Homo sapiens: one gene and its partners. The protein of the gene in region 2 purifies or fractionates together with the protein of the main gene of each other region. This does not show direct contact. Each region holds a gene or a part of one and is shown on either strand. Other genes may lie near its edges.

Region 1 (4,128 bases), on a different chromosome or scaffold from region 2:
GGGGAGCTGTAGAAAACACTTGCAGAGCCAGGTTTTGCTGGTTTGGGGCATGCCCTGGGCACCAGAGCTTTAACATTTGAAGCCACTTCAGCAGCAGCAGCAAAAGGCGAACTCATCTCTACCCAAGATGTTTCTTTTCCTAGTGGTGGAATTTGAACACTTCTCACTTTTTATTGTATTTTATCTTCCGCAGATAAATGTAGAAATACACGATTCTGTCACCTCTGATCCCTTCCATCTGAAAGGTTACAAGGAGTGTTGTAGCTTCTGAAGGTGCAGAAAACAATTTCTAAAAATGCTTTTATTCCTGGGCTAATCCTGTCCCTCCCTAAGTCACAGCGAGGTGTCTGTCCCAGGGCTGGAGATGCTTCCCAAGGAGGAGTCTGTTTTGTTGAGAGTGGGCGTGGGCTTCTTCACATAAGCCTGGGGAAGGAAGAAAAAACGGCTTTCATTACCAAATAATGTAAAACCTCAAAAGCAAGGGCTTCAACAGCCTTAACCAAATATTATTCCCCATAGCCAGTGGAAAATGGATGTGACAACCCCAGTGCGCAGGCCAGAGTGAGTGAGCCCAGCACGGCGCTCCGACTGGCTTCCTCTCTCAGGTGCTGGATTGTGGGGTTAGTGGCATTTCCAGCTGGATTCCTCCTGTTGTAGTTGCCATAAGGAAATGAGATGCAGAATCAGAAGGATCTATTTCTACAGAATCATTTCACCAGTTAAGCACATGAGTAGAGAAAGAGATAAAAATAAAAGTATCTCATGAAGGAAAGAGATTTTGCCTCTCTTTTACTTTTCACCTAAGTTTCTCTGAGAAATAGAGACAGGATTCTCTCTTTAAAATTCAGTGAAAATGAAGAAAGTTTTCCTGCAGTTGCTAACCTGAGTTGCAGTGTTTAAGGCCATCATTTCACTGCTGCTGTCTGTGACTCCACGTCTGTGTCACTGAGGTGACCTGCGTGTCACTGAGGTGGCCACCATGCTGGCCTGCGGCATGTGCAGGGAGCTGAGGCTGTTTCCAGGTGATGCTGCTGTGTGGAGAAGGTTCTGAGATGCAGTGAGGGAAGAAAGGATCCTGCTGGGGATTCCATTGTAAGCACCTATAATCGGGAATTTTCATGTAACAGCTTTGACATTTAAACATTCTGAGTTTGGTGCCAGCTCAGATTTGATTATATTTTATTTTGGATGGGTGTAATTCACAGCACAGTTCTAATCTCCCAAATCTTTCTGCTTTTTAGAATGAAGTATAAAAATACTTTTCTCACCTGAATACCAAGGGTTGGCCCTTTAGTTGGATCATTGTCATATGACTTGGTAGATCCTTGTCCTCAGCACCTCACGTGAGAGAAGGGAGTCAGCCAGCCGGCCCCCTGCTTGGTGCTCGTGACCAGCTCGCACCCCTTCTGTCCACCCTTCTCTCCTCTCCTCCCCACTCTCCCCACCCTCCTCACTCTCCCCACCCTCCTCACTCTCCCCACCCTCCCCTCCTCTCCTCCTCACTCTTCCCACCCTCCCCATCCCCACCCTCCCCATCCTCCTCTTCCCTTTCCCCTTGCCTTCTCCTCTCTCCCTTCTCTTCTCAGGCAGGGAGGAGGCCATCCCAAGCCGAGATTAACAGGACTTGACATAAGCCATTAGTTTGTAGCTTTGACAAGTAATTATGAATTTTTGTTGCTTATAGGTGCTTATTTTGCAAAGGATGCTTTTAAGATCAAAATAATAACCCTACCTAAAGTCTAGCTCCACTGCTATGGGTCATACTCTTCAGCCTCCCAACAGGGCAGAGAGAGAGAGCTACTGAGGCTTGTCTAGGTTGCCAGGCTAACTGGGCGACTTGTCCATATTCACCCCATGGATTGCACCATGGCACTCTTTGATTTTTCCACTGCAATGGCAAGTAATCTCATCAGTCATAATAGAGCAGTCCCGAATGCGTGCAGATTCTAAAAGCAGGGCTTTAGGAGAGAAACACTGCCAGGGGGAATAGTTTTGGGGAGGGTTTTCCCAAAATAACGGTCATCCTACTGGGTTTATCCCACCCTTAAATATGAAGCCTGTTACCTCCAGAAGCTTCTGAGAAGAATGATGTGAAAAGACAGGGAGTGGGTTCTAGGCAAAGAAAACATAATGACCATTCAGAGGAGTCAGTAGCACAGCTCACAGATAAAGTATTTTATTACTATCTGAAGTTTTCTTTTGTTTTCATGCAGGACATTTTAAAAACGTATATGGCAGCAGAAACCTGTTTCTCAATAGAAAAAATACATTCAGAGGCATTTCTGGGATAGTCTATCTGTGTTAGTATTTGGTGCTATCTATGTCCAGCCAAGTTATCTACCCTCAAATTCTGACTAATCATGTTTGTGCTTTGGGTATTTAAAATTACATACATATATATTCTTTTTGCCAAAAACAAAAGTCTTGCTTCTTGTCAAATGATTGCTAAAGTAGATCTTACATTTTTTGTTATTATGTATGTATTTATACACATCCCCAACACACTTAGTGATTTCTGTTATTTCCTAGGGAGCACAGCTTTAAGGCTATGAGATACAACTAAAAGGAGCCCATCTATTTGGTTTTCCAGCCAATTATTGTACTCACATTTCAGGGGAGAATCTGAAATTCCTGTCATGTTTACAGCAACAATCTATCATTCCTGGCTAGCTCTCAGCCTCTCTCTCCTTCCATAGGTTAGAATTATGTCATTTTGTTACTTAGTGGCCACGTCTATTTCTGAGAAAGACTGGTTACATTTATGTGGCATCTCAGGTATCATTAAGGAAAAGCCAGAGCAGGGGTGAGCAGAGGTCAAAACCACAGACGCAGCAGGGCCATTTGCCGCCTTTGGCCGGGATCACAACCACTGCAGTCTCCCAGCAGGTAGGCCTTGCCAAGCCTAAGGCTCCCCATCCAATCTAGACAGAGGGGCGCTCAGAGCAGACTTTGCCGTAGCCCATGTCTGGTGAGCACAACAGGGAATGAATTGGGCACTCCACTCCCCCGTCTCTCTGGCCCAGCCCTGAACTAGATGAGCTGCATTTCATGGAGCCCATTTTAAAATCTCTTTCCTTATGACTTTGTTACTCAAGTCCAGAGTTCTCTGTGCACTTCTGCTAGATAAGGAGTGTAAGCCCTGCCCCCCAGCACTGGCAGCACGCTGGGCCCTCCCCACACAGGACACCGTGCAGTTCCGGGGGAAGCTGACTCAAATCAACCTTGAAATCTCATGAAAACAAAATGACTTGTCTTTTTATTTGATAGTGTAATATCATTCATTTTATAAATTTTTTAGGGTTTTTCTCGTAATATTGTACAGTTTTGCATGGCCTGGTGTGATCATTTTTTGGTTAGAATATAATGCTGACAAATGTGGATGGAGGGGAAGATACTGCTTTAGCCTATCACTCCTTATTTTATTTTGTTTGGTTTTATGCCCTCAGTGTCTTAGGGAACTTTTTAAGAGATCCTCTGCTACCAAACAATGATGTGGATTCTTTTGCACAGAAATATTTAAGGTGGGATGGTAAAAAATGTCACAAAAGACTCCTCACCAATACTTTATGTTGATATCACTTAATATTAACCAGACTTTGCTGTATTGCAATAAAACAGAGAACTGTTAGCATTGAGTATTTTGTCTCTTTTCCCCCCACTTGAAAGTCTGAGAAATAGAGAAAGGTGCCACCTCTCCGCCTGTCACTTCTCTTCTTTCTGCTGGCCTCCTTCCTCATCCAGGCTGCTTCTTTATGCCGTAAAAGGACATGGGGTTAGTTTGCCCCTGTGGTTTAATCTAGGACTTTCTTAATTTCTTCCTTAGCTCGGGTAAGAATGATGTTCAATTCTCCTGAAGCTTTCAACTCCCCTCTTCTGGCCAGAACTTCGCTGTTGCTGTTACTTCGGTCCACAAGACCAAACCCTGGCTGCGTGAGGTTTCCTGAGTGGCCCTGACAGTGTGAATGTGGGAGCAGTTTGATTTTGTGTCACTTAAACAAGACGGACTGTTACTGCTTTTCTGGAGTTAGAATGGTTCATCTAAGAACATACAGGGAAGGTCCAGGGGTGGGGTTAAAGGAACTCCTGAACTGGTGGCAGCTAAGTAGTTATTCGGAGAATACTTCCGGT
Region 2 (3,500 bases):
TAGGCTTCTACATTACTGTATAAATTCCAAAGTCCTTTACGTCACAGGAATTACAGCAGCATAATTAATGAGTCCTCATAGCCGCTATAAGTACAACTACTGCTGCTGTCACTCACAGTCAGGCCTCTTGTGGACTTTCATCATGCTGGATTTTATTTACACTACATTTGAACGAACTTAATATTCTATGGGGTTTCCATAGCACCTGCCTCCCCCCTCTGGCAGAGGAAGCCACAGGCACTGTCCAGGCAGGGTTTATTAACCAGTGCGAAATCATACTGAGCCCAACTAGACCCTGGCTATCTGAGAAAATACTGTGGGTCAAGTATTAACAAGAGGTTTTATAAAAAGCTGACAGGCCAGGAACATGACCAGAATGTTTTTACTTTGCCTTTAACTAAAAATGTATATTTTTTTTTAAGAGATGACGGTCTCACTATGTTGCCCAGGCTGGCTGCAAACTCCTGGCCTCAAGTGATCCTCGCGTCTCAGCCTCCCAAGCAGCTGGCACTACAGGTGCATGCCACCACACCTGGCTAAAATGTGGATTTTTAGGTTGTAGTTTGCTCTCTCTGCAAAAGTTCCTAACTTCTACTTAGAACTTTTCTACTGTGGGGAAAAAGTTTACCAGTTATGTCCCAAGAGCTTGATTATCTCTGTTTGTAAGGGACAGGACTGACACGGGAAGTGCTGGGCCTAGACTCGAAGCCTGTGCGTCTCCAATTGTCCAGGTTGCATGCAGACATCGAGGGTTCTGCAGCCTCCTGCTGAAGCACAGCCCCCAAGGCACTGCCCAGGGCCTGCCGGGCCACAGGCTCTGTCCTTGGGGACTGCAATGTGTTTTGCTGCTTTGAGGTTTTTCTGCAACTTGTTTCAATTTAAGAACTTTCATCATTTGCTGAGATGTGTCTATTTTGCTTTTACCTTAATATGGTTCAGAGTGAAAACCATGAAACTGAAAAGAGGCTTGCTGGAGGAGCTGGCCAAGAAAATGCAGACTTGAATGGTACAGGCTGGGGTCTCATCCCAGCTCCCTGCCCTGGCTAGCTGGGTGACCTGGGCAAGTCACTCAGCCTCTGAGAGGACCACATTCACCTGTGGGCTCGCACAGGGCTAGGCTAGGACTCAGGCAAGGCTGGTTCCCCTCACCATACCAGACTTTTCAAGGAGAAATGCAAAGCCTAGAAAGTTGCCAAGTGGCAGTTCTGAAAAAAACCATGTAAAGGCATAGGCTTTGTCCAAGCAACAGCCTAGGGACCTAGCTCTTCCATGACCCCAAATCCTGCTGCTGCAGGACAGCCTCTTTCCACTCACTCCCCTCTGGCTCCTCTTGTGCAACCATGAACAGGGCTTCCCTGCTCAGGGAGCGCTGGTTGGAGAACTGGACTCACCTGCTTCAGCCTGAAAATGCCAACACGATCCCTTAACCTCCCTGCTCAGCAGCTCTGCTCTAAGGAGGCCCTGCCGCCTGGGATTGAACTGGGCCATTGATCTTTCTACCATGGTCCCTTCTTGCAATATGACATAACAAGTGTTAAGTAGCCTAAAGCCAGCCTGTTTTTTGTTTTTGTTTTTGTTTTTTTTTTTTTGAGACAGAGTTTCGCTCTGTTGCCCAGGCTGGAATGCAATGGTGCAATCTTGGCTCACTGCAACCTCCACCTCCTGGGTTCAAGCCAGGCCCTCCACTTTTTTTTTTTTAACAGAGTTTATCACATGCAAAGCCTACACAACCAGGCAAATAATAGAAAAACATAAAGCTCAAAAATAGATGAAAATATGATCAACACGAACAGTACACCAAATACCAATCACCTAAAGACACCTTAGGAGTTAACAGACTCTGAAAAGAGAGTGTAACACCAACTGGCAGAGCCTCATTTTGTTCTTTACAGACAGAGATTCACAGAATTGGGCCTGTGGAGACCACCAATTTTTTCTCCCTTTTCTGAAGGGATTTTTAACTAGAGTCTTCATTTAACGTTAGTGTCTTAATACTCTGGTGGAAAAAGAAAGAACTTTCCCAACATTCAGGGAAACAAAAGAAAGAGCTGGAGCCAGGTGTGATGGCTCATGCCTATAATCCCAGCACTTTGGGAGGCTGAGGCAGGTATATCACTTGAGGTCAGGAGCTCAAGACCAGCCTGGCCAACATGATGAAACCCCGTCTCTACTAAAAATACAAAACTAGCTGGGCGTGGTGGTGCACACCTGTAATCCCACCTATTCGGAAGGCTGAGGCAGGAGAATCGCCTGAACCCGGGAGGCGGAGGTTGCAGTGAGTAGAGATCGCGCCACTGCACTCCAGCCTGGGCAACAAGAGCAAAACTCCACCTCAAAAAAAAAAAAAAGAGTTGGGCGGCTGCTTTCACCAAGATGAAGAGCCTCATTCTACAGGCAGATCTGGTCTGAAACCGGTCCCCTCCTGTCCCCAGGAAAGCACAGCAACTCTCCTTTTGTGTATTCGATTCTGTCGGTGCCAGCATGCCTCAGACCAGCCGCCCTCTACTGGTTCCTACATGGGCACAGAGTGACTCACAGGGCAGAGTGTCCCTCCCTGCCACCCAGGCACTATGGACAGAGCTGGCCCTGATAAGACACAGGAACACAGGCCACTGAGCCAGCCAGAGGCCAGTGGGCACCACGTTCCACCAGCCAGGCCTTGGAGCGGGGGCTCCCAGCCCCTCCAGACACAAAGGGGCCACCTCCCTGGGCTGGACCTGCTGGCTCCTGCTGGTGAGCTGAGCAGTCTCAGATACCATCCAGGGGAACCGAGGTCCTGTGGGAGGAGAGATGTTGAGGGGCCTCCCACCTGCCAGACGCTGAGGTTGGTCTTTGGTTTCCTTGACAGTGTCACAGTGTCCACTCCACTGTGTCTGAGGGGGCTTCTGGGGAGTTGCTCACAGAGCAATCTGATAATCCACTACTGTATCTGCTGTAAGGATGTGAGGATTAGCTAGCACATCTCTCAAGCTCCCAGCCTGTGATGTCACACGGTACTTTCTTAATGAATTAACTGCCAGGGAAACTTGGCTTCCCATGAACAGTGGGCAGGCTTCTCAACGTGGATCGTGGATTTCCTTCTCACTCCAGTACCTACGACTCAAACACAGGTCTGTTTGCTCAATTTTGAAAATGTCAAATGTAAAAGAATTATAGAACTTTAGAACTTATGGGGATCTTAAGAGATCACTTGGTTCTGTAGTAAACAAATTCCTTCTACACTCCATGACACACATTGCCACAAGTCACTGTCTCCCGCCTTCTATGCAATTAAGCTCCACAAAAAGTCTATTCAGTACTAATCCAGAGCCAGAAAGCGATGGGAGCCTTCTCCTTATCACTGACAGAGCCTAATCAACTTACACTAAGTGATCTGGACCGTGTCAAACTATATTTATACCTAGTGAGCTACCAGTCATCGTTTTTAAACACTACTTTAATCTTTCATTTTAACTGTTTGTAGGCCGAGAAATGCCACTTACCTATACCTAAAATTACAT
Region 3 (2,716 bases), on a different chromosome or scaffold from region 2:
CATTATTTCTTACACCAAGCCAAGTGATTTTTACCACACCTTAATGATGGTCAAAAGAGAGTGTTTTGTGTTGTGTTTTACATTTTTCCTAATGCTGGCAAGCAGAATGATAGAAAGATAATGTTTCAAGTCTGAAAGAAAACCACCTCATTCAGACTTTCCTTCACCATGAATGAGATCTTCTCATGATTGCCTTTGAGAAATCCGTGATTGAAAAGTTTTGTTAAACACCAGTGACAAGCAGCTAATGGCATAATATCTGCTTTGATTTTCTCAGACACACTCTAAGTTTTCATCCTCACTTCTCTGTGGTCCTTCACCTTTGACTTCCTTTATCATGTAACTGCCAATTTTGATCGTTTAATTGAAAGAGGAAGAGTGACAAGAAAAATAAACAATTTAGCTCAGTGGATTGCCCCCTTTACAAATAAGGAAACAAAATTTGTCCTTCTAGATTTCAGACTAAGCTGATAACATTTTAAAAATCCTGTACAGAAAGGTCTTTTTAAATGCTTTTATTTGCCAAAAGTTTTGGGTGATTTTGAAATACATTAGACATCCCATTCATTGAGGAAAAAGACAGTTTATTCCAAAACATTCTTTAATAGTCCTAAACTGATTTTGTCTATCAGAGCAAAAGGAACAAAGGTAAAAATCCACCTGAAAAAAGATCTTTGTATCATGGAAATTATGAAGCTGGATTTCTTAGACATTAAAGAAATTCACAGACCCACATAGTTTAAAAATTTAATTTTTAAGATTAAATTTTCACAACACATTATGACTGTAAATGAGTTACCTGAATACCAATTATTACCTCTAGTTATTTTTAGCAAGGGAGCTGGACTTCACTTTACTTAATGCTAGCTTATAAATTTAACTTTGTAAAATTATAGTGGAAATGTGTCCTGGCTAGCTGCCTCTGCCCAAAGCAAATGTCATCTCCCCTAAGTGCCACAGTTCTATCTCCCCGTCCTCTGAGCTCCACTGAAACTTACCTTGTATCCTTCTTGTCCCCCACGCCTTCTAAATAAGAGTCTCTTGCATCTATCAATATGTGTTTGTGGAAGAAAGGAAGGTGCAGAAAAATAAATACGCATCATAGTTTAATTAGGAAAGTAAGGGCTTTGAATCAAACCCAGCTTTGTATCTCACTTCATCTATTTATTCATCATGTGACAATAGACAGTTGAGTTAACCCTTCTGACCTTAGTTTCCCCATCTTTATCATGGAGATAATGAGACCTTCTTCATTGGATATTGTGAAGATTAAACTGGATATGATTATATATCACCTTGCACATAGAGGCTCTCAATTAAAAAAACACTTCTCTTTCTTCTATTCTAGCATATCATTCATGGTCCAATCCTGCATTACAGTTGGTTGAATGCAGGTCTGTTTCTAGGCAGCACATTTTTGAAGGCAAAGTTGTTCATCTCTGTATTTCCTGTAGAACCTAGGGTGATGAGCTGCATAGTCTGGAGGCACAGGAACTGCATATTATACTAAATTGAGAGCTGAGCCAGGATGGCCAAGGCTGTGAAGCAATTATCCATGGATTTGGTCATTTGGGCTCTTTTGGTAGTATAGTTCCTCTCATGAATTTCCACTCTGGTCTTAAAACAGCCCATCATGTTTTTAAATTAGCTTGCACAAAATACAACTAATTTCCTAGATTCTTTGGCAACTGATCAGAATACTATTCTATGTCTCGCTATAGAAACTCCTGCAGGCATATTGACTATACCCTGAGAAAGACAAAACTAAATGCACTACATGATGCTGGGAAAACAAGTTGTGATGAAAACAGTGCTGAGTCAAATAAATATAGATTATTAACTCCAGCTTGCCCTTGACTGGTCATGAGACCTTGGACAAGCTACCTATGCTCATTAAGCCTCAATTTAACTTCTTGACATCTCAACTATAAAAAACAAGGGTATTTTTTGCTTTGTTTGGTAATTTTGAGGAAAAACAACAACAAATGAGAGATAATTCTACTTTAGTTGTTACACAGGGTTGTTGGGTAGAGAAGGAAGGTGATGCCTTGGAACAGACTTTAACAACTGTGAGGCAGGATAAAAAACAAGTCCTGAAAGCCATCACTTTTTGACCATAGTGAGCTCTTCTTTTGTAACGGTTCAGGCTTCTAACCTTATTTCCTCCTTTGGCAACTGACCAGCTCACGCACACATACTAGTGATGAAATCCACATAACTCCATATCTTTTCCTCTACATGGCCAAGAGTTTCAGTGCAACAGGAAAGTGCTGTCACGGATCCATCGTGCAACACATACAGTGCTGTAAAGCAAAGGCCTCGTCTGCCTGCAGGCAGCAGGAACTGCACGCATTACCCTTCTGTCTGATGTACAGCCTAACTGCTTCGTGCTTCTTCTCATGTGTTGAGCCACAGCTTTCTTGTAGAGTATTTCAAAAATACAGCCCCAAAACAAAGCATAATCGAAAGTCATCCCAGGTGAAAGTGGTTGGCTTGGGGGAGGTCACACAGTCCTTTCAGTTCAGGTAGAATCCTTGTTTCTAGGTCATTTGACCAACATCATCCCAGGCTCCTTAGGGAAATCAGGAGGGGGCAGAAGCAGGCTGACCAGCTACAGGCTACACACAGAAGAACGAACCTTCCCAAATTTCTGGAAAAAATCTTCTTGTGCCCGGGCCAAGGCCTCTTCGTCAATGTAGACAGCCGGCCTCTTGGC
Region 4 (3,500 bases), on a different chromosome or scaffold from region 2:
CCCTGCAGAAGGACGGGAGAGGCTGGCTCCTTGCCAGATATGGGATCCAAGCTGCCTGCCCACTCACTGGTGACCTCTATCTGGGCTTCTGTCCCGGCCTCCCCCAGGGACTCAGTCACCCCAGCTATCACCCTATTCATGTGCAAAGAGCTGGTGTCCTTGCCCATCCCTTTCTCAGGATCCCCAATGAACTGACCCTCTGTACCCAGAACCACAGGGCCGTCACATCCTGAGCCCTCTGCCCATGGGAGCCACACATCTCCCATCGTGGCTACCACAGAACGGGCCCCGGAGAGGATTTCTGGAGGCGATTCCTTGGGGCTGTCCCCTTCTGGGCTGGAGGGTGTGACAGAGAGCCCCTCTTCACCCTCCCCTTCATCATCAGGGTCTTCGGTGTCCTTGATGAGCTCCACGCCACGCCCCAGCCGGGCATAGTGCAGCGTGATCTCCTCAGCCAGGGCGCTGTTCAGGGCCCGCTCAGGGCCAGGCCACTTCAAGATCAGGTCGCGGTCCGTCAGTATGCCCAGGGGATGGCTGGGGGACATCCCTCCATCTGTGGAGCCCTCCCCACCACCCCCTGCCCCACCCGCAGCCACAGCAGCCCGTAGGCGGCTCAGGTGAGACAGGTAGAGCTGCTCCAGCTCCTGGTCGATGGTGTCCTCACCGAGCAGCTCCTCTGACCCACTCACAGCCTCCAGCCCCCCTCCATTCTCACTCGATACTCCCCATGTGGCCTCTGCCTGCTGCTGACTGGGCTCCAGGAAAGGCCCGGTGGCCCCCTCGCTCGCATCGGGCCCTGAGGCCTGGTCTCTGGGGGAGCCACCCAGGCCACAGAGAGGGGAGGAGGGGGGAATCCTGATGGCCGGTGCCTGGAGGACCTCTGTAAAAGCCACAGGTGGACTGCTTCTGGGGACATCACCTTCTTCTGCGGGGTTGCCAGTCATCGGAACGTCAGAAACCTGGAGCCATGGCCGGGGCAAGGGGGCAGAGAAAAAGCAAGGGAATGAAGCAGAGGAGGGGATGGAACAAGCAGAGACAGTAAGAAGTGTGACAGCCCACAGCCAGCCCCACAGGGGTTTCTATATAAAAATGCCTTAAAGCGCCCTCTGTCACTGTCTAGACTCCAAAGACTGTCATCTATGGTAAAATAACACAATTGGATGCAGTAAAACAGGGCTTCTTGCAGATTATAAAGCTGAGGAATTCGGTGGGTGTGAATATTTGGTGAATGATCATCACTAAATACTGCTGGCTTACCTTCAAAACAGAGCCAGTTAAAATAACTAAAAGTGTAAGTAGCCAGGCACAGTGGCTCTCACCTGTAATCCAAGCACTTTAGGAAGCCAAGGCGGGCGGATCACATGAAACTAGGAGTTCGAGACCAGCCTGGCCAACATGGTGAAACCCCGTCTCTACCAAAAATACAAAAATTAGCTGGGCGTGGTGTTGTGCGCCTGTAATCTCAAGAGGCTGAGGCAGGAGAATCACTTGAACCCAGAGGGCAGAGATTGCAGTGAGCCGAGACTGTGCCACTGCACTGCAGCCTGGGCGACAGAGACTTTGTCTCAAAAAAAAAAAAATAAAGAGTGTAAGTGGATTGTTTGTAACACACAGGATAAATGCTTGAGGAGATGCATACCTCATTCTCCATGATGTGATTATTACACAATGCATGCCTATATCAAAACATCTCCATAAATATATACACTTACTATGTCCCCTCAAAAATTAAAAATTAAAAAAATTTTAAAAAAAATAAAATGCAAAAAAATCCCAAAACATAGCCAGGATGTCCATATGAACCCATGATGTATCATCTTCTCTTTAAAAAACAATTATTTCCTAGCTCCATCTTTTGAAAGGGCCTAGAAACAATGACCAATCTAGTAGCAGCAAGCATGCCGAGCCCCCAAATCTTGGCCTTTGAATGCCACTCTCCACTGAAAGGAATCAGTGCTCCTTAAAGAAATAGCTGTTTCTGGCCAGGCTCAGTGGCTCACGCCTGTAATCCCAGCACTTTGGGAGGCCAAGGCAGGTGGATCACCAGGCAGGTCAGGAGTTCAAGACCAGCCTGGCCAACATGGTGAAACCCCATCTCTGCAAAAATACAAAAATCAGCCGGGTGTGGTGGCATGTGCCTGTAATCCCAGCTACTCAAGAGGCTGAGACAGGAGAATTGCTTGAACCCAGAAGGCAGAGGTTGCAGTGAACCGAGATTGTGCCACTGCACTCCAGCCTGGGCGACAGAGAAAGACTCTGACTCAAAAAAAAAAAAAAAAAAAAGAAAGAAAAAGAAAAAAGAAAGAAAGAGAGAGAGAGAGGAAAGAAAGGAAAGAAAAATAAAGTAAAAGAAAAGAAAGAAAGAGAGAGACAAAGGAAAGGAAAGAAAGAAAGGAAAGGTAAGGAAAGAAAGGAAAGGAAAGAAAAGAAAGAAAAAGAAAAAGAAAATAAAGAAAAGAAAAGCAAGAAAGAAATGGCTGTTTCCAGGCTTGGGGCAGGGAGAGTACAGGATGAACCTAGCACATATTGTCATGGAAGATGTGAGAAAGGCTCACAGAATGATGAGGGCGTGTCAAAAGGACAGAGTAGCCCATCTCAATAAGCTCCTACTAGCCAGGGATAGTTCAATTTAAGCATCAAAAAAAGCAAACAAATAAGTGCAATGGATTGAAACTCATTCAAATATGTTTAGAATTCATGAGTTCATAATGACACAAAACCAAAAATCCTTTTATTGGTCACCTTTGTAGTAGTACTTCTCTGAAAACTGGTAAATAAAATGGAAAAAATTAAATATTTACACTGCTTTTTCTGCACAAACTATATCTCAAAGTAGCCAAATAGCTGGTGTGGGACAGTTTTTCTTTAGAGAAGAATTCTAGCTAATAAAGGAAGTGGGAATAATAGAATTAAATAGAGTTAATTCTAGTTAATTTAATAATAAAAGATTAAATACATTCGTTTAATACAATTTGATAAATTAAATAAATTTAATAAGATTACATTAATTAATATAATTAATAAATTAATAAAAATGGAGTAAGAAATGTATTTCCACCTGGATGTAATCAGCCAGACCCAGACTGGAAAATTCTACAGGACAAGCAAAGTTTCTTCAACCAACAAATTGCAAAGAAACAAAGTGGGGGAGATTTTAAAAATCTAAAGAGACACATCAATCAAATGCAACATGTCAACTTTGTTTGGATCCTAAACACTTATGAGAGAAGAAAACTTGAACACTGACCAAATACTTGATGATACTGAGGAATTACCGTTTATTTTCTAAGGTGTGATGATAGTATTGTGGGGTTAAGAATTCTTAATTTTCTGGCCAGACGTGATGGCTCACACCTGTAATCCCAGCACTTTGGGAGGCCAAGGCAACGGATCCCGTCTCTACTAAAAATACAAAAATTAGCTGGATGTACTTGCTTGAACCCAGGAGGCAGAGGTTGCAGTAAGCTGAGATCACACCACTGCACTCCAGCCTAGGTGAC
Region 5 (3,500 bases), on a different chromosome or scaffold from region 2:
TCAGGTGATCCACCTGCCTCGGCCTCCCAAAGTGCTGGGATTACAGGTGTGAGCCACCAAGCCCAGCCTCATTTTTTATTTTTTGAGATGGAGTCTTGCTCTGTCACCCAGGCTGAAGTGCAATGGCATCATCTCGGCTCACTGCAACCTTTGCCTCCTGGGTTCAAGTGATTTTCCTGCCTTAGCCTCCCAAGTAGCTGGGATTATAGGCACATGACACCATGCCCAGTTAATTTCTATATTTTTAGTAGAGATGGGGTTTCGCCATGTTGGCCAGGCTGTTCTCGAACTCCTGACCTCAGGTGATCCACTTGCCTTGGCCTCCCAAAGTGCTGGGATTACAGGCGTGAGCCACCGCACCAGGCCTCCAGCTTCTTTATAGCCATGCAGTTGGTTACAAATTGTTTCCCAAAGTGGCTGGGGTATGCCTGGCCCACAGGCGTGACAGGGAAGGGCCAGGAGTGGCCACATGAGGCGGCTGTTAGATTTGGGGGTGAGGGGAGGTCTGCCAACCATGTGGGTCTAACTAGCATTTCTGTGCTTTGGGGCTGCCTCACAGCTGACCCTGCATGGAGATTAAACACAGGAGCAAACCTGCACACCCTGCAGGGGCTTGAATACCTGGTCGTCCCCCCGACCCACCCAGTTCTTTCCTGGTCCGGCTCTGGCTCTGCAGTGAGTGCGGAAATGAGCTCCCTTCAGCCTCGTCTCCTCTGGCTGCCCGGGGTACCCACCCCAGGCGACCTCAACCAGCCTGGCCTCCCCGACAGCCACACCTGACAAGCTGGGCGCCTGTCAGCAACACCCCAGAACAGAAAGGACACACAGGAGGGCCGGGGCCACCTGCACCAATAGCATCTCTCAGTTCTGACATCAGGGGTGAGGCTGGGCTGCAGCGGCTGGGCCCTGGACCCCTCTGACCAAGCAGAGCCACCGGGCTCTGGGCCTTGGACAGAATTCCATATCCTTGCCTGCTTCTCCTTTGAAAGGGTTCCACAGTCAGTGTCTACCTACAATGACAGCAAACTAGGTTTCTTATTTATATAGCCTTAATCAGGCAAATGAAGGAAAGACATGATGACTTGGAGTGGACTAGTGATCCAACCCTGAGGTGTGGTCAACAACTCAATGATCCCCAGGGCCAGTCTGACATTCAGGACACCTGTCGGGGGGGCCTCCAGTCCCAGGCAGATCCATCTCCTGAACTCCAGGCCTAAACAATCCACGGCCCCAACACAGGCTCCTGGACACACAGGTACCAGACTGGGGCACACCTGAATCCCAAGCAGCCCCTCTCCCCGTCCCCATTCACTGGGTCAGCTGAGCCTTGACCCTCCCTGTTCCCAGCCCCCATGTTCCCTCAGTCCCACCTCCCAATGGTGGCCCACTGCCCTCGTCTGCCTGGACCTGGCCTGGCCATGTCTGCCCACCCTCCACGACCTTGGCCAGTGACCACAGAAGCACAGTTGCCCCATCTGTGATGAAGTCTAGGGCTGCTGAATCAACCAGCCCAGACAGCTGCTGCCCCAGGACTGTCATGTGCTGTCACACCTCCTCACTGATTGAGTCGGGGCTTGTGTAACCTGGGGCCAGGCGTGTGCTCACGGGCATGTCACCCTCACATCCCCCAGGCACCCACCCGCCTCCCCGGGCACAGAGCAAGTGCCAAACCCACCCAATGAATGGATGAGCCAGTGAACACAGACCCAGCCACTGGGGCTAGGGTACGACCGCATGGCCGGGGATGGCAGGGAGGCTAGGCTGCTTGTCACACACCCACCCTTCTGTGGAACTCGCACACAGGCTGGGTGTTCCCCCTCCACAGATCCTAAAGTTCCCCATTCCCTGCCATTTCCCTCATCATAAAGGGGAGACCCTGAGAACGTACACAACATAAACTGAACAGTACTGTGAATTTCCACTTGAGAGCCTGACTTGCCCCCGGCCAAGGGCTGCTGTGTGTCCCAAAGGCAACTGGGCAAGTGCTAGAGACTTTCTCCATGAGGCACCTGAAAGACACAAAGGCCCCAAAGGCCCCGTGCACCTGCCTCAGAGACTACCCAGGGGTGCTGGTGTGTGCGTGGGACATGCCTGTGGGGAGGCAGAGCTGGGCTCTGGGGTCAGAGACTCTTGGACCTGCCAGCTTCTCACAGTGGGACCCCAGCAGGTGGCTGGACTATGCTGATCCAGTGTCCTCCCCTGCAGGGGGACTGTGGCCAGGGTGACGGTCACCTCCCTGGCAGGGCCCCCCTTACCTGAATGCCTGGTTCTCACGGTTGTTCTGGAGGGCAATGGTTTCCACCTCGGGACCCCCGTCCGCTATGAACCTGGCCAACTTTTCTGCAAGGTTCTTGACCTCTTCGTCCTCTGGGGGTGAAACTTTAAGCAGGCTGTCAGTACTGGGCTCAACTCACCACACCCAACAGCCTAATTTCTGCTAAGAACCCCAAGGGCAACAAGTGGGGTTTGTTTTAGGAATGATGCAAAGAGAAACAGGCAAATGGGAATCAGATTACTACACTGGGACCAGATGCCAGAATTCATAACACACCTCAAGCCCCCACCCCCGACCCCCGCCCCGTCCCACAAGGGAGGTCAAGAGGGCCTGGGACATGAGCCAGGACAAAGGATCCAAATGTGACTGCGGGTCTGGGTAGGGCAGGAAGGCAGATGGGAGCACCCCAGGTCACATGGTTAGGGGGTGCTGTTGGGCCTCCTCTCCTGGGGAGAGGCTCAGGGCACAGGGCCACAGGGAACACAAGGAACAAACCTCTGCAGCCTGCGCTTGGCCTGAACATCAATTCCACCCCACCAACCCACCAGCACTTGGCTGGGATTTTATGTCATTGCAGTCAAAGACCAGCCAGTATTTCCCCTTCCCCTGAAATTCATCCCATCAGAATTGCACCAGCTGACAGTGTCTGTCCCCCAGGCCCTCGGCCCTACACTACACTTGCCTTGCCCTGTCCTCAGTGCCCAGGAGGAAGCTGGGGCTCATCAACACTTGTTAATGTAACAAAGAACCAACAAGCAAAAGCCCCCTCTACCTAGGGTACTGCCCTGAACCGCTCTCCCAGAAGCGACCTCGACCTCCATGAGCTCCCGTCTACCCCACAATGTGGCCTGACACTCAGGCTTCACCAGGTCCTTGGAGCACTGAGGGGGAAGGTGGTGTCAGACCCATTCCCAGAGTGACCCCAGATGCCTGGGAGAATACAGGCCTCAACCACCGGTGCCACACAGTGCCACTCCAGCACCTCCAGGAACCCCGATTCCGCATTGGGGCACGGTATGTCCACAGGCCTCCCCAGAATCTCCCACCCGCTCCGTCCACCTACCTTTCTGAGAGGCTGCCTGCGACTTCTGTGCTTCCTTTCTTATCTCAGCCACCTTCTTCCTGTAGTAGAGGAATTCCCTGCTATTCTTATCGTGCAAAAATCTGGAGAGGAGGAAGTTTGCAGAAGAGAGGGGAAAATAAGTATCTGTGACAGGCATATCCC
Region 6 (3,500 bases), on a different chromosome or scaffold from region 2:
CTGGGATTACAGGCATGCACCACCACACCCAGCTAATTTTGTATTTTTAGTAGAGATGGGGGTTTCACCACGTTGGTCAGGCTGGTCTCAAACCCCTGACCTCAGGTGATCTGTCCACCTTGGCCTCCCAAAGTGCTGGGATTACCAGCATGAGCCACCACGCCAGCCTTGGTTATAGTTTTAAATGTATTTTTCCTTTATCAACATTGGGATGCCTGTGGTCTAAAGAGTCAGGGGTTCTCAAAGCCTTTGTGAAATACAGTGGCCCTCCAGCCCACCTCTCCCTATTTCCTGCTCAATTCTTTTAGCCGATCTTTTGGTTATGTACTCCCCATATCTGTAAATATTCTGCTTATCATATTGTTCCTTGTTGATTTTCAAGTTGGGGTCTTTCAGGTGGAAATGAAGCATTCGTACCTTCACAACCACTTCCCGTCCAGGCAGTCTCCCCATCTGTATTGCAGTTGTAGTTAGGTCAGTATCTGTACACTGACATTATTATGACCATGGAAATAGACGTGGACAGCTGAACCATCACGGATAGAATGAGTACTCTAACTTTCTCGCCCAGCTTTTGTTTTCTCTGGAGTTAATATTTGTCTTAATATCTGTTTGCTTGACTTTTTTATGTCAATGATACTAATGATAATGTATCTCCAAGCCCTTTCCCTGTCCAGTGAATCTCCTTTCAACACACATCAACTAGTCTATCAAGTTCATCTTCTTGAGGCGATCTCTCCCAAAACCTTCTGCCTGCTTCCCTCTGAAGTGGGGGCTCTTGCTTCCTACACTGCCCATCTTGGCGTCTTTCTTCACTGTCGACCCAAGGGGTTCTTTCACCCCTGTCGATTGGGTGCCCCGTTTCCTGCTCCTGCATCTTTATTCCTCTTTGCTTTACTCTTTGGGCAGAGCAAATCTTCCAATTGTTTCTGAAAAAAATATTGCAAAGGAAATATTTCTAGGGGGATCTTGCCCATCTGAAAGCGTATTTATTTTACCTAAAACATGATTGATAGCCAGGCTGGGTGTAGGGTTCTAGCATGGAAGTGATTTCCCCTGGAAATGCTGAAGCCACTGCTCTATTGGCACCTAGCTTCTGGGCTTGCTGCAGAGAAGTCAGTTGCCATTCCTTTGTTTTTTCTTTTTGGAAGTTAGCAGGATCTTCTTTGTTCCCGTGTTCTGAAATTTCATGGGATGCAGGTTCAGTATGCCTTTCTTTTTTTTTTTTTTTTTTTTTTTGCCACCCCACCCCCGCCCCCCGAGATGGAATCTCACTCTTTCACCCAGGCTGGAGTGTGGTGGCACAATCTCGACTCACCGCAACCTCCGCCTCCTGGGTTCAAGCAGTTCTCCTGTCTTAGCCTCCCAAGTAGCTGGGATTACAGGCATCCGCCACCATACCAGGCTAATTTTTGTATTTTTAGTAGAGACGGGGTTTCACTATATTAGCCAGGCTGATCTCAAACTCCTGACCTCATGATCTGCCCACCTCGGCCTCCGAAAGTGCTGGGATTACAGGCGTGAGCCACCACACTCAGCCTGCCTTTTAGACTAGAAACTCATGGCCGTTAATTCTCAGAAATCATGATTTCTTTGATCTCTTCTGTTTTCTCTCTTCACAGACTTTTTTTTTTAATTCAGAGACTGTTTCTCTGATTTTCTAACCCTCCTATTGTTTTCCATTTCTGCTATCATTTTTAACTTCCAGGAGCATGTATGCTCCCTGAAGTTTCCTCACAGCACTCTGCCCTGACTCATAGGTACAGTACCACCCTTTTCTCTCTGAGATTTTTTTTTTTAATCTTATTTTACTGTATTAAATCTTACTAATATTCTGTAAGGGACAAACCAGACGAGTAGGCTACAGTGAAGAAATCTTATTTTGGAGAGTTAAGAAACCACTATGATACTTCCAGGTATTATCTTCAGTGATGCTTCTTATCTTTATTCAGGGACTCCAGGTAATATTCAGCTCCTACAGCTACCACAAATGCAGCAAATCCCCATTTGAATCCTTTAAACAATACATCAAAAAAGGAAACACTCTTTGCAAAGCCACCCATGTATCTTCAAGCTTCATTGTGGCCCCACGGATCCCTTAGCCCTTTTTCAGCCAGCTTCTTCTGGATAGTTTCTAATGGTGTCCCTTCTGTCTTCCGTTGTCTGTAATCTAGAAGTTCCATTTTACGATGTCCATGCTCATGTCCATGTCCATGGGCCATGTCTGACAGCAATCTGACCTCTCAGGACACTCAACTCTCTCTCTCTGAGATCTTAATGGTAGTTTTCCATATGTCCTCTACATCCTTTATAACCTCAGTTTCTTCCATCTTAATTTGTTTTCTACCTGCCTTTCATATTAGAGGCAATTCTCAACTGTTTGGTGTTTCTTGGCTATTTGCTGGTGTTTTGGGGGGTGCACTGAAAGCTGCTGGATGCACTCTTCATTGGGGAAGAGCTTATCAACATAGGTTCCACTTCCTGGAGAGTGACCAGGCTGCTCCCCTTTTGTTGGGGAATCTTTCGTGTCAAGGTCTTTAGATCTTTTCTTTAAAGTTAAGTGAGATTCCCCAGAGAAAGCTCCCCCAGTCCACTGTTCAGAGGGGGTGAGTCCCGCTGCCAGAGTTCTACGGCTGAGTGGGAGAGAAGGGCTGGGCTGTGGGATCCTTCCCCGAAGCTCCCTATTCTCTGTGTGCTGCCAGTGCCCCAACTGTGCAGACTGCCCCCAGTCTAGGCACCTGTAACTCTGTCCTCTCTTGACATGAAACCTTGGAATGGAGGGGAAACTGTGACACTCCCTTGGCCGAGGGGAGAGGGATTCTCAATAACTGCTTCTTGAAGAGACTTCAACCAGCGCTCCTGTTTTCATAACCCGCTTTCCTGCCCCCACTCCTGTAAGTGCGCAAGGTCACTAAGGCCCGAACCTTTGGGTGATTCCGTAACAGTGTACACTCGGTCACCTTCCAGTATTTCCATGATGTCTTAGCATTTGTTTTTCTCTCATGCTGTTAGGCACTGATCATTCATCAGCTTTCTGGCTTCTGAAACCTTGTTGCTGTCATCCTCTTCTTGTTTCCTTTGTCCTTGTGGGATTATGCTTTAAAAAAAAAAAAAAAAAAGAAGATCTCTGCTTTTGTTGTAGTAGATTTCAGAAATATCATCATCAATACGCATCTTTAACTAGAACATAAGCATTTCATTTCCTTCTGGGGTGACTCCACTCCGGCTTCTCCATGACTTCCATCACTTTTTTTTTTTTTTTTTTTTTGAGGCTGAGTCTCACTCTGTCGCCCAGGCTGGAGTGCACTGGCACAGTCTTGGCTCACTACAACCTCTGCCTCCTGAGTTCGAGCGATTCTCCTGCCCTGGCCTCGTAAGTAGCTGGGACTGCAGGCGCCCGCCACCACACCCGGCTAATTTTTGTATTTTTAGTAGAGAGGGGGTCTTGCCATGTTGGCCAGGCTAATCTTGAACTCCTGATCTCAGGTGATCCGCCCGCC
Region 7 (3,500 bases), on a different chromosome or scaffold from region 2:
CAAGTATGTGACCCACTCAACATCCTGGAGCTTGAAGTCTTCACTGCTGCAATCATTTCTTTGGCATTTTACTCAGCGAATGAACATTATGGTCAAGTCAAAACCCTTCTTCTTGGATATCACTGTATGGTATGCAAAATAATGAAACTTGTTTGCTCTTTAAAGAAAAGGCTTCCTTCTTTAAGAATCACAGCCCTGGGATCATCGGATAGCATGTTAGCTGTCGCAGCACAGGCATGTGCTTAGAGCTCTTTGTTTTGGCTGCGGTCAAGACTATTCAGATCTCTTCTCTCTGCCCTTTTTAGGTTTGACACCTATAGATCCAAGAAAGAGAGTGAACGTCTGGTCCAGTATTTGAACGCGGTGCCCGATGGCAGGATCCTTTCTGTTGCAGTGAATGATGAAGGTTCTCGAAATCTGGATGACATGGCCAGGAAGGCGATGACCAAATTGGGAAGCAAACACTTCCTGCACCTTGGATTTAGGTACTGCCCCTCACTTCGGCTTCCACTGGGCTCTGGAACATTGAAGCCACTCTATCCCACTGAGAATTTACCTTTCCCATCTCCTCTCCCCACAGCCGTACCATCCTAAATGACCTAGTGGATGCAGGCATTTGCATTTGACATCTGAGTTTGGCATATTTGGGAATTGTTCTTAAAGAATGCTTGTTTTTTCTTACAAGCATAGTTCACTCAAAACAAACAAAAGCTCGCTGTTTATATGAACTCATTCATTCAGTCGGCCACTTACAAAATATTAAGTGAGCATCTACTGTGTGTAAGAGCCATGCCTCCAATGCACAGCTAATATTCATTTTCTCTTTCTTTGGTAAAGAGGTCATGTCATGGCTTGGGGTTTTTCAGAGATTATGTGAAGTGTCTCTGCTGAGGCAAATGACCAAGGAGAAGCAACCCTTTGACATGATCTAATATGTGTTTTGTTTGCCTTGGAGTGCAGCATCATGCCTGACATTGGCATGCACACACATTGACACTAAGAGGAAGCTGTTTGCCCCACAGTAAACAATGCCTTTTTTAAAAATTTAATTTAATTTAAAGTTCCAGGATACATATGCAGGACGTGCTTGTTTGTTACCTAGGTAAACGTGTGCCGCGATGGTTTGCTGCACCTATCAACCTATCACCCCGGTATTAAGCCCAGCATCCACTAGCTATTTGTCCTGATCCTCTCCCTCCCTCTGCCCCTCGCCCCTGCCAAGCCCCAGTGTGTGTTGTTCCCCTCCCTGTGTCCATGGTAAGCACACCTTTTTATCATGTTGAATCAAATCTCAGCTCAGTGGAAAGTTGAGGTTATCTGTCCCATGGCTGTTTAGAGATTACGATGCTCCTCCCTTCAGCTTCCCACATCTGGGAGCAAGATCAGAGGGAAGCCAGAGACTTTTCTGGGCTTGGAGCAAAGCAATTTTGCTGGCTGGGCAGAAATTCCCTGGGCAAGGGAGGGGTGCTCCAGGTTCCAGAGTGCATTTTCCGACAGCCCAGAGACTACTTCTTCTGGACGGGAAACTCAAGCAGGAAACTTAAGCAGCCAAAGATGACAATGACACCTTGGCATTGCAAGCCTCCTTTGTTAGCAAACACTAAGTGCACTTCCATTCTGTTGTTTTATAAACCAAAAGGCCAGTTTATTAATTTACAGTGAGAGTTAGAAACACCAGGAAACTGACTATTTACGGCCTCAGCAGAAGAAGAAAGTGGCTAAGGGCCCAAGATCTGGCATCCAGTGGCCTGAGTTTGAGTCTGGGTTGCACCTTCCAGGAGGTGTGACTGCAGGCAAGTGACTCATTCTCTTTGCCTGGTCCTGCATCTGTAAAATGGGATATACGAGGAGCTATCTCAAAGGACTATAGGACAATTAAATGTGATAATATGAACAAAATATTTGTCATCATGTCTGGCACAGAATAAGCACTCCATAAATGTTAGCAACTATTTTCTCCTTATAAGCAAGAGCCACTGGAAAGGTGGGCACTCGCCGTCTTTTGCCAGGGCTGTTCACATGGGCAAAGGAGATACATAGGTGGGAATTACACGTCCACACCTCATTTGTATAGAGACATTCTTTGAGTGATAAACTTGAAGCATCTAAAATCAGTAGGAGAACTGAGACTTGGACCCTTCATTTGTTCACCCATTCAGGAAATGAACACATACTGGTGGGAGGTACTCGGTTAGACCAGGTGTCCTGAACTCTTGGGGGAAGGCAGGTATGAATGGAAATTGGTGACGGGGCATGAGAGAGCAAGAGAGTGGGCAAGTGTAGTTTAGTGCAGACGAACACATGAGGATGAGGCCAAGCTGGTTCCCATAGAGAGATCAGCAGCTTCGGAGGCCCAGGGGCAAAAGCATGCCTCTCCCAAAGAAGGTGGGGATGGCGAGGCAGTGGCAGTATATGAGAGAGGCAAGGGGTGAGAGGTGAGGCTGGAGGGGGGCGGGGGCAAAGGACCTTCGAATCTGTGCCAAGGAGCTTGGATTTTATCCAAAGGGCAATGGGGAGCTACTGAAGGATTTAAGCAGGAAAGTGGACAGTTAAATCCCCAACCTCAGTTAAACACCGTTCAATAGTGATTCATTTTCCAAGACAAGAGATCAAAACAAGAATAATGAGAGCTATTCAGCACCAAAATCGATTGATAGCTTATAGTAAGAGAGGGCTACTGTAGGGGGGGAAAATCTCTTTCCTTCTACTCTTCTAAGTTCTTGACTGGAGCACCTGCAACAAATCACTGATTAACAGGAGAAAAGCACACAAATGTATTTCAGATAGTAAGTTTTAAACGACATGGGAGCCTTCATAAGGAAACGAGGACCCAAATACACAGTTAAACCTGAGTGTCTGTACACGAGGTTTGATGAAGTGGAGAGCTGTGGGAAAATGTGGTAGGACAAGGGGCTTGAGTTAAACACAGTAAACAGGGGAAATTTAGCAAGGTCTCTGTTCCTTCAGATTCCTCTTGGCTTCCTTCTGTGTTTGGGGATAAGGATGCTCTTTTTCTCAGAATAAGGAAGGCCCTCTCACATAAGGGTCTTAGACCTGCTTCAGGGGAAAGTCAGAAACTCCTTCCTGCCATTTCACAAATTCCTTGAGCTTGAAATATTCAATATGCCAAGTTGCCATTTTGGGGGGTAGCGTCTCCTGAACTTCATTACTGCATTAGGCATTACGCAAAATGCCTAAAACAAAATGGGGTAAGAAAACCTTGCTGCCCTAAAGCAGCACGTGCTTTCATGGAGGAATGATGGATGTACAATTTTTCAAAACCTTAAGCCTTTTTTTGCTTCCCTCCCCATTAAGAAGAAGAGAGATTTCTCTCCTTTCCACGGCCCAAGGCAGATGGCTAGGGCAGTCAGTCATGTTAGCCTCTGGTATTTTCCTCGAGCTCAACTCTAGGGGAGCTGAGCATGAGAGAAATAACCTTTCTCTCTTGGAACATGTTTTCCTGAAGGTATCCAAGCATTTGCTTCAGGACATAATTGAGC

What was found.
Region 1: the proteins of PYGB (region 2) and CDC42BPA fractionate together in Homo sapiens (co-fractionation; one large-scale study listed by BioGRID). This does not show direct contact.
Region 3: the proteins of PYGB (region 2) and EPM2A purify together in Homo sapiens (affinity purification with mass spectrometry; one large-scale study listed by BioGRID and IntAct). This does not show direct contact.
Region 4: the proteins of PYGB (region 2) and PPP1R3F purify together in Homo sapiens (affinity purification with mass spectrometry; one large-scale study listed by BioGRID and IntAct). This does not show direct contact.
Region 5: the proteins of PYGB (region 2) and SUGP1 purify together in Homo sapiens (affinity purification with mass spectrometry; one large-scale study listed by BioGRID and IntAct). This does not show direct contact.
Region 6: the proteins of PYGB (region 2) and WARS1 fractionate together in Homo sapiens (co-fractionation; one large-scale study listed by BioGRID). This does not show direct contact.
Region 7: the proteins of PYGB (region 2) and CEMIP purify together in Homo sapiens (co-immunoprecipitation; one study listed by IntAct). This does not show direct contact.

The regions. Positions count from the first base shown.
Region 1 is NC_000001.11:226,989,365-226,993,492, reverse strand, and holds the end of CDC42BPA (serine/threonine-protein kinase MRCK alpha), read left to right. Parts: 3' UTR 1-3,628; downstream 3,629-4,128. UniProt on the Homo sapiens protein: Serine/threonine-protein kinase which is an important downstream effector of CDC42 and plays a role in the regulation of cytoskeleton reorganization and cell migration. Regulates actin cytoskeletal reorganization via phosphorylation of PPP1R12C and MYL9/MLC2.
Region 2 is NC_000020.11:25,254,585-25,258,084, reverse strand, and holds part of PYGB (glycogen phosphorylase, brain form), read right to left. Parts: intron 1-3,500. UniProt on the Homo sapiens protein: Glycogen phosphorylase that regulates glycogen mobilization. Phosphorylase is an important allosteric enzyme in carbohydrate metabolism. Enzymes from different sources differ in their regulatory mechanisms and in their natural substrates.
Region 3 is NC_000006.12:145,624,805-145,627,520, forward strand, and holds the end of EPM2A (laforin), read right to left. Parts: coding exon 2,612-2,716; 3' UTR 921-2,611; coding exon of another isoform or gene 891-920; 3' UTR 501-890; downstream 1-500. UniProt on the Homo sapiens protein: Plays an important role in preventing glycogen hyperphosphorylation and the formation of insoluble aggregates, via its activity as glycogen phosphatase, and by promoting the ubiquitination of proteins involved in glycogen metabolism via its interaction with the E3 ubiquitin ligase NHLRC1/malin.
Region 4 is NC_000023.11:49,283,293-49,286,792, reverse strand, and holds part of PPP1R3F (protein phosphatase 1 regulatory subunit 3F), read right to left. Parts: intron 960-3,500; coding exon 1-959.
Region 5 is NC_000019.10:19,300,010-19,303,509, forward strand, and holds part of SUGP1 (SURP and G-patch domain-containing protein 1), read right to left. Parts: intron 3,440-3,500; coding exon 3,339-3,439; intron 2,380-3,338; coding exon 2,256-2,379; intron 1-2,255.
Region 6 is NC_000014.9:100,365,348-100,368,847, reverse strand, and holds part of WARS1 (tryptophan--tRNA ligase, cytoplasmic), read left to right. Parts: intron 1-1,804; exon of another isoform or gene 1,805-2,260; intron 2,261-3,500. UniProt on the Homo sapiens protein: Catalyzes the attachment of tryptophan to tRNA(Trp) in a two-step reaction: tryptophan is first activated by ATP to form Trp-AMP and then transferred to the acceptor end of the tRNA(Trp).
Region 7 is NC_000015.10:80,883,870-80,887,369, forward strand, and holds part of CEMIP (cell migration-inducing and hyaluronan-binding protein precursor), read left to right. Parts: intron 1-305; coding exon 306-485; intron 486-3,500. UniProt on the Homo sapiens protein: Mediates depolymerization of hyaluronic acid (HA) via the cell membrane-associated clathrin-coated pit endocytic pathway. Binds to hyaluronic acid.